Linked DNA regions of Homo sapiens: regions 2 and 3 are each linked to region 1. The links come from fine-mapping of genetic effects on gene expression. A gene starts in region 1. Each other region holds a variant in brackets. All regions are shown on one strand. Distances are between the middles of the regions.

Region 1 (2,768 bases):
CATTCTTGTGGTTTGTTGCCTACATTATGTTTAAAGGACATGCTAAATGCTAAATTTCAGTTAGAAGTTAGTGAAACTAAAAATGAGATTTTTCCCATTATACTTAATCTGTATAAAAGGAGTATATGAATAGAATTCCATTTATACAGATTAAGAATCTCCTGCTCTATGGTAATATTAACGGGCTAATGTTATGAAAGTGAGTCTCAGAGCGATGAATTAAGCTGTTCTAGCTTTCAAAGAGCATATATTCTATGACCAAGAATTCTAACTAAGTTTTGTTGGAAAGCTGTTGGCTACATTATCACCTAACTTTGGGACTGATAGATGGATGGAAACATCTCATTTAGCAAAGGTGCTTCCCTGGCCTTGTGCAATTGCACTGTTTAGGTTGCTGGACAAATCCATAGTGTAAAGCTGGCCTGTATCAAGTGACGGTCAATTCAAACAGCAAGGCAAGTTAAAAGAGGGAACTCCATTCCACAGAACCCTAGTGTCAAGGAACCTCCCGACTGGAAAATGACTCAACAGCTAGGCGGAAACCCTGGCTCAGCTACAAAGAGAGCAAATTTAGTCCCATTTTTCCTTAAACATTCAACCCTCAAACCTGAAGAGATTTGGGAAAGAAGCAAAACGGGAGGGTGGGGGAGAGAGAACAGTCTTGTTAACAGCTAGTGTTAATTTAAAAAGAGAAGGAAAGGGCTTATATGAATACATGCTTATTTCATTCCCAAAGCAAATTTTCATAAATCCTTAGGGAAAGAGAGATAGTCATTTGCTAATGTAGACTCTGCTTTTTGATTCCCAAATGTTACAGCTGTCACCACAACAGTTTGCCCAATTATGTGGCAGGGAGGGGAGGGGGTCCAGAGCAAAGGAAGTAGGAGGAAGAGATGTTAGAGGGAACATCTGTGCACAAGTGCACCATAAACACAACAAAATCATGGGGCCACCCCACTGTTTCTTTGAGCGCTTTCTCTGGTTGGCCCCACTTCTCCAGTCTTTTAGGAGATTCCCGTTCTATTACGTAGGTGAGAGGGCGAAAGGTTCTAGCTTTCAAAATTGTGAGTGGTTTGGCTGTGTGCATACGTGTGTGTGCGCGCGTGTGTGCGTGTGTGTGTGTGTTTGCGTGTGTGTCTGTTGGCGGGGGCGGGGGTGATGGAGAGAGCTATGAAGGGCTTAGAAAGCTTCATTACCAATTTAAAATGTTTTTGTAGTGCTTGAATGTTTATCTTAAAAGACAATTCCTGCTCTCAAATTCAGCCAAATGAACAATGCTGATAAGGAAGATGAAGAGGGTGGGAAACCCACAGGGGCAAATGGAACAGTCCATGCAGCCGGGGTGACGGGGGAGCGCTCGGAGGAAGGACGCTATGCAGAGAAAGCCCCCCTGGCTCTTCTCTCTCAATCCATAATCCAGCGATGCTGCAGCTGTAAAAGCATTAATAGAAAATCAATCCACAACCTCGCGGGGCAGCGATCGTCGAGCGCCGTTTCCAGGCTGCCTTCCCTGGGGTCGGGAGCGGCCCCGCTCCCCCCGTGGCTGGCGCGGAATGTGGTGATCCGTCCCGGGGCGGGGATGACTTCATGCAGCCGGAGCTCCGCGGCGGGAGCGGAGGCTGCTGCTGGCAGGTGGGGCGCGGGCCGGCGCGAGCTGACCGAGCACTCGGCGGGCGCGGCGGGACTGCGGCCCGTGGCGGCGTGCGCGGGGACCTGCGCTGACTAGGTCCGGGGAAGGTAAGCAGCCCGGCACCGGTGCGCCCTGGCCGCACTGCGTGGAGCTTTCCGCTTGGTTAATAATGGGGTTTGCAGCACGGAGGGAAGAAGGGGAGAACCCCGCTGCATTCTGCAATGAGAAAAGGAGCAACAACTAGGATGGAAATGTTGGGCGGCCAAGTGCAGAGGTTGGAGGAGCAGTGTTACTGGGCAAACAAAGAAGGCGTTCTTGCCTCTATACTCTTTTGAACGTGATCTACCATTTCAGTGCCAGATTCGCGTAGACAGTGAAGAGGACTCAAAATTTAAAATAATTTGAGTTACTCTTTTGCTTTCTGTGCCTTTTACCTTCGCTTGAGTATTTTGAGGATTTGGAGCAGTAGGTCCCTGGCAGCAGCCTGAGGTAATCAGAAATCGTCCCTCTTCCTGTAGTCCTTGGTCCTCTCCCTTTCCAGTTATCAGAATGGGTCTGTGCCCCTCTCAATGGCAAAACACCTGCTTCAAGACTGAACCTTTAGAAAGAGCCTCTATCTGGAGGGGAAACTTCTCTTATCTCCTGGAGTTCAGCTTGGGTTGAGCAGCACTTGACATCGCTTCTTCCTTCAATTGCCATTTTCTCTGTCAATCATTTCATTGATCTTTTTCGGAGATGCTGTGCCCATTCACAGACCAACTCTCGTCAGCTCTTATCCACCACCTGGGTTCCATGACTGATTTTGTCAAGGTCCCAAAAAGGGCATTGCCTCACACAGATTTCTTATTCGGTATTCTCCCTGTATACTGTTACCTGTGTCCTTCCCCCAAATGCATGGAATGAAATATCCTGCTTGTGGCCCTGTACCAACATGTTATCCCATTAACTCCCTTCGCTGTAGTCACTGTGGCTACTTGAAAGCTAGAGAGGACAGATAGAATCTACTGGAGTGTGAGGGATGTTCCCTATGCATAGGCATAGGTAGAAGTAAAAATGTGAATGCCAGTCCATCCAGTTTTTCTTGAAGCAATTTTAGTCCAGTTGGATTTTGAGACAGCTAGCTGTTAAGATTTGGGAC
Region 2 (2,768 bases), 45 kb after region 1:
TTGAACATAACTGGTTTGGAGATGTGTTGAAATGACTGATCTCAAGTTCTCTTTCAAATCTGAACTAAATGTCTGTGTGATGGAGATAGAGGCTATGGAGCTGCTTTCCCGAGCTCATTGATACAGCCCCCTCACTTTCGCCAGTGTTTTACATTCTGGCAAACCAGCATAGTTCTTTTTATCTGTAGTTATTATACATCTAGTTGAGAAAACCCAGTTTGATCTATTTATACCAAAGTACAAATGAAATCTGAATTCATCTGATTAGTTCTTCCTGTAAAATTGTGTTCATTTCTATCACATATGTTGTAACATAAAGATTTTTGGTGATATCCTAGTCCCAAAGTGATAACCTAGATCATCTGACTCTACATTCTCCATAGGAATAAATCATACGAATCTCTCTGAAGTAATGTTATAATTAATTCCTAAAGGTAATTTATAATTATATATATGCTACTTTCATGCATATTTGATATCATTTTGACTTTCACTATTCATTTATCATGTTTGCAAGCCTTTTGTTAAAAATAGCTGGTACACAAATCATTTCCTGATTGCCACATCTGGAACCCTGATTATATTTGCATTTCACAGTCGTTAGCCTTTAAAACTAGAGCAGAATCTGGGAATTTGCAGACAAAACAGTGCTTCCTTCTGGCAGTTGCATAAAAAGACATTTTTAAATCTGCATTTCTGTTTAAAGAAAACTGATTTATTTTCATTCTAAATTTATATAACACTTTCTTTAAACTAATCATAAAATGTAAATTAGGTTAACTCTAAGCTTTTTCCCCACCAGAACAAATGACAGTAACATTTTGTACAAAAAGAAAACGTTTTTCTATTCACACCTTGAATCATTGCTCTCCCTGTCTTTGAAAGTTAATTCTGATTAAGATGTACTGGTAGCTCATTGAAATCTTTGACAAAGCCAGCTTAGCTATTCTCTTGAGTAATGATTTACCTTACATTAAAATATCTTAAACATATGAACATTAATAACTAAAGTGATGAATATTACTAATATTGGGACTCAATTCATCAAGGAGAATACTTTGGGGAAGCAGATGGACTGTGAAGGGACAGGGATAATTTTTAACTATGGCCTTGATATTTAGACCAATGGCCGAGGAAAACCATGAAGAACATGAGAATGGGCTTCATTCATGTCAAGGAAGCAGAGTATTTGCTGATGGCTTAACATTTACTGGGCATGTCCTAACAGGATAGCCTGAAAAGATA[C/T]ATAACATTTTATCTGAGTCATTTAATTTAACCACATCCCTCTGTGTTAGTGTTATCTCTATTGGTAGATAGAAACCAGGCTCAGGAAGATTAAGAATGTTACCTAATTCTAGTAAGCTGCAAAACCTAAACTGATTTAATTCCAGAGCAAAGATCTTTCTACCTTATCAGCATGGGTCTTTACCTCTTTGAGAATATATGAGCTCTATGAGCCTTCTTCCAGAAAAATCCATAAATAAACAACATGAGACGTGGTATATCAGTACAAATCTCACTAAATGATTAGTGTGTTTGGACTTGCATCTGCTGGTAGATCTTTTGCGAATTTGCCTTCCTCTGAGATAGGGGGCTTTAAGTATTTTTTCTGAAGACACTCCCAAATTATACATATAAGAAACTATTTTCCTTTCAGGCTAAAGATAAATTAAAATGTATTTAACTACATATAGGTGCCACTGTTGGTCTAACACTCTACATATACCAGGATACAAGCTAAGATGGGTTCAAAAACTGTCCATTATACTGTAATTTGTTTCTGATATCGTGACACAGATATAATTTAATCAATTATAAGACAAGAAAAAAGACAGAAATGCTCCTTCTTCCTCCTCAACATCATGTAATTAGCCTACCCCACTGCTCTAGGCTAGGCCAAGTTTTTTTGTTTTTTTTTTTCTCCTAGTACAGGAAGCATATTTTAGTGACTCTCTGTCACAATCTTCTCCACTTCAAGTACATCTCACATAAATCTAGCCTGTCCCACAAAGTTTGTGCCAGGCAGTCTTAGGGTCAGTTGTACCCACGTATGTATGATTTTGAACTTCTCAAGTAGGGCCATTGTAGTCAGTAGAGCACAGTGGTTGGTACTGATGTCAAACTTTCTGAGTCCAAATACTGCTTCCATCTCTGACTAGCTATGTAACCTTAGATAAATCACTTAATGTTTTGAAAAGCATCTGTTTTCTCAGGAAAAGAGGATAATAAATACACCTACCTCACAGGGTTAATGTGTAAATTCATGTAACATGGGATAATGCACGTTAAGCATTGCACAGTACCTGCCTCTTGTTAGTAATAGCTGCTCTATTATTAATTATCCTCTTTGTATCCCCATTCTCAGCTCCCTTCTAACATATAATAGTTCTTCAGCAAATATTTACTGGCTTGAATTAGTTCTAAAACTTAGGCAATGCACCAACAGCAGAGTAATCACCCTTAACCATCACTTCTCCCACTGAAAGGGAGAATAGACAGAAGCCAACTATCTACCCTTTTTCTACATAAAACCTCTTATCGAGCCTCCAGTTAATAAAATAATAGTTCTGAAACCCCAAAAAATATTAGCAATTGTTGAAATCATGCTAGTTTGAAAATAGTTGAGTTTTCCTAACAAAATATGTCTCAGGATCCCAGGGTCACCAAGCTTATATTAATATAGTCTAGTTGGGACTAATGGTAATCATCAGTGAACTAGTCATTTTTTAGCTTCTTGGGCTCTTAAAAAATTTGTTATCATTAAGCCC
Region 3 (2,768 bases), 41 kb after region 1:
TTGGATCATTCAGACTGAGGTAAAAAAAAAATGACTAAGATCTTAAAGTACAGATATTTGAATTTCAATAGAAAAGAAAGGCTAAAGGATTGAGGTTCTCAGGCAAAGAGACAAGAGTCTGCTAGGCATCAGAACTTTTTGGCTTCTCCCAGTTACAAGACTCATCTTATAAGCCATATAGTTGGAGAGAAGTAGTCATTCAAAAGGCTCAAAATATAGGAAAACAAAAATAAAAATCACTTCTTAGTTCATAAATACAATGTAGGTCTATTGAAGAGAACATTAAAATTGATCCCTGTTTTCTGATCTCAAACTGGCCAACAGTGAGAAGGAGTTGGATAAAGCAGCCTTGGTGTTGGTGAATGCAAGAAGAATTGAGTGTATAATTACAAAAGGAAAGTGAGTGTCAATGTGTGTGTGTGAGAGAGTGTTTGTATAGAAACCACTCTAGAAAAAGACATTTAAAACTGCTAAAGTTATTAATGCACTGAAAAGAAACTATTAACTTCAAAATCATTCTATTGCTATATTAAGTCATATTTGAGGGACAAATCAATAGCAATGACTTTCTTGAAATGTCTCCCAACACTATGATTTTGTTTTATGGCACTGGTGGGTAAAGGGGTTTGGTCTGAAAGGACACAAACAGGTAATACTATCAGTTAAGAATGTTGGCAGTAGTTGAGCAAAAAAATAAAATATGATAGAAAGCACAGTTTGTTTCCTTTGTCCTTTCCTTTTATGTTTAGCAGTTATGTAAATTAAAAGAAATTGATCTTACTACCTATTCTTTTTATTCAGTTACCAAAAGAACATTTGCTTTGAATGAATATGGATGCATTTTTCTTTTAACAGAATCAGGCAGCCAAACATGACTCACTGTTATTTACATGAGTCAGTATCTACTTGCCCATGTAATCTTGTTTCACTAACTTTACAGTCAGATCATTCTTGTTACGATCAGGGAAAATGCAAGCAAGAATAAATGTGATGCCAATTAATACAACTACGAATTAGTATTTAGTAGTAGTTATTGATCATTTTATATGGGAAGTAAAAAAATCAATTATCTAACATTCCATTGTTTACTATTATTTTTAACAAAAATGGGATTTTGTTTTTTTTTACACAATGTTCTGTTCTTTGTTAAGAAGTGAGGAAAAAAGCACTTACTGATCCTAAGCAAGTCAGCTCCTCGATTTGCCTGATGACGATGAATATGAATACAG[G/C]CTTTCTCTCCAGTACAGTTGCTCTTCATCAAAAACAGGCTGGCTCTAACATATTTCACAAACACAGAAAAGTGTGCCAAGACACAGTCAGCAATTCTTTTTAATTTTTGAGATTTAAAATATTACTGAACTTTGTTTGAGTTTTACATTTCTCATGGATAATTTTACTGTGAAATTTATGATGCTATAAAACTATGTTTATGAAGATACTATAGTAGGTTTCACATATCTCCATATCTTATATTGGTAACATTTAAATTTGAATACTACATCTTTATCCTTTCATAAACTAGAAGATAATTGTTCTGATGACTAGCAGAAGAAGCTGGCAGGAACGATAGATTTGCCACTCTTTGCTTTCTGTTATTTGTGAGTCTAATTACTCTAGTTGGTCAATTAATGGCAACACATGACAAAATCTTCCTACTAATTGACTCTCACTATTTTGTTACTGCTGAAGCTTCCTCTAATTTTGTATGTGCATATGTTACCCTACTTGTCATTTTTTTCCTCCTAACCTTCCTTATCAGAAAGCCCATCTCACCAACTTCACAGTCAGATAATTCTTGTTATGATCAGGAAAAAAGCAAACAAGAATGAATGTGACGCCAATTAATATAATTACTAATTAGAAGCCACATTTTGAGGGCATTAAAACAGAAGAAGAGTAGAAATGATAATAACTTGGTTTTAGGGAAGCTGTTAACATATAAATAGAACCCAAAATGGCACCACTGGTAGTTTTCCAGGGACTTAATATTTCTGACACACACTCAATTTGTGCCCATGGATAAGACATACTATATTATAGGAGAATCAAAGAGTTACATATTTGGAAAAATCAGGTTACCAAAAAGAATAATGACATTGTTTAAACAATAATGCATTAAACTTTCCTTGTTTATTATGCTAGAAGTTGTATGAGATTATCTGAGTAAAAGCATTTCAATTACTTCAGCATTGTGGGACATGAAGTGTAAAAGAACTCAGAACATGGGAAAAAAAGGAAAAAGAGAAAGGAAATGGCTGAAAGATTAATTACTTGGCTGTCAGCTGCTAGGGGAGTTTATTTATGTTCTCTTAATATTCATAAGGCTCTTGTCAAAATGGTATTATTAAATACCCATTTTATAGAAAAGGGACTGAGGCTGTTCAACTGCAGTTTATTTGATGGGTATTTATGCCTGTGATGGGGACAGCTATGTCAGGAACTTCAATTCCAGTTAAAGTGAAACCTGGCAGAGACATAGTTTTGATCCAAATTTTGACAGTAGTACAATGTTGCTTGTCCTTCTCCGGGATGGTAGTCTGTGTTTCCCTGTAACATTTTGTCTGATTTGTTTGTACCAACTATTTGGTTTTGTAAATTTATGTGACACTTTGTTTTAAGCTAATTATAAATGTAAATTAGACTCTAAGATGTCTTTTTTCCACTAACTGGTTTTGTAGTAGCAAAAATCTGAAATTACATGCAAAATGCTGTTTACAGTTGTTTTAGTAAGGGGATGCAGAGCAGTCAGAGTGAGTTGTCAGATTCTC

Alleles and levels. Alleles are on the strand shown, and positions count from the first base shown. SD is a standard deviation of normalised expression in the study named. Not every link is listed here.
For the expression in tibial nerve of the gene that starts at base 1,609 in region 1, G is the low allele of the variant in region 3 and C is the other (small effect, 0.29 SD a copy in GTEx).

The links. PIP is the estimated chance that this variant, and not a neighbour inherited with it, causes the effect.
Region 2: its variant is fine-mapped to the expression of PKIA in whole blood (INTERVAL, PIP 0.93).
Region 3: its variant is fine-mapped to the expression of PKIA in tibial nerve (GTEx, PIP above 0.99).

What each region holds. Positions count from the first base shown.
Region 1 is chr8:78,514,732-78,517,499 of GRCh38, forward strand. PKIA (cAMP-dependent protein kinase inhibitor alpha) reads left to right here and starts at 1,609. Exons shown (of 4, transcript NM_006823.4): 1 at 1,609-1,737. The region is part of intron 2 of LOC105375911 (a long non-coding RNA gene); the gene reads right to left. RefSeq lists a silencer at 1,554-1,853 and an enhancer at 2,174-2,283.
Region 2 is chr8:78,559,553-78,562,320 of GRCh38, forward strand. The region is part of intron 1 of PKIA (cAMP-dependent protein kinase inhibitor alpha); the gene reads left to right. All of the region lies in intron 2 of LOC105375911 (a long non-coding RNA gene), which reads right to left. Among named protein-coding and RNA genes, the nearest start is that of PKIA-AS1, 2.4 kb to the left of the region's middle. The variant C/T (reference allele first, on the strand shown) is at 1,246.
Region 3 is chr8:78,555,326-78,558,093 of GRCh38, forward strand. All of the region lies in intron 1 of PKIA (cAMP-dependent protein kinase inhibitor alpha), which reads left to right. It overlaps PKIA-AS1 (PKIA antisense RNA 1), which reads right to left. Exons shown (of 3, transcript NR_125389.1): 2 at 1,174-1,274. The region is part of intron 2 of LOC105375911 (a long non-coding RNA gene); the gene reads right to left. Among named protein-coding and RNA genes, the nearest start is that of PKIA-AS1, 1.8 kb to the right of the region's middle. The variant G/C (reference allele first, on the strand shown) is at 1,230.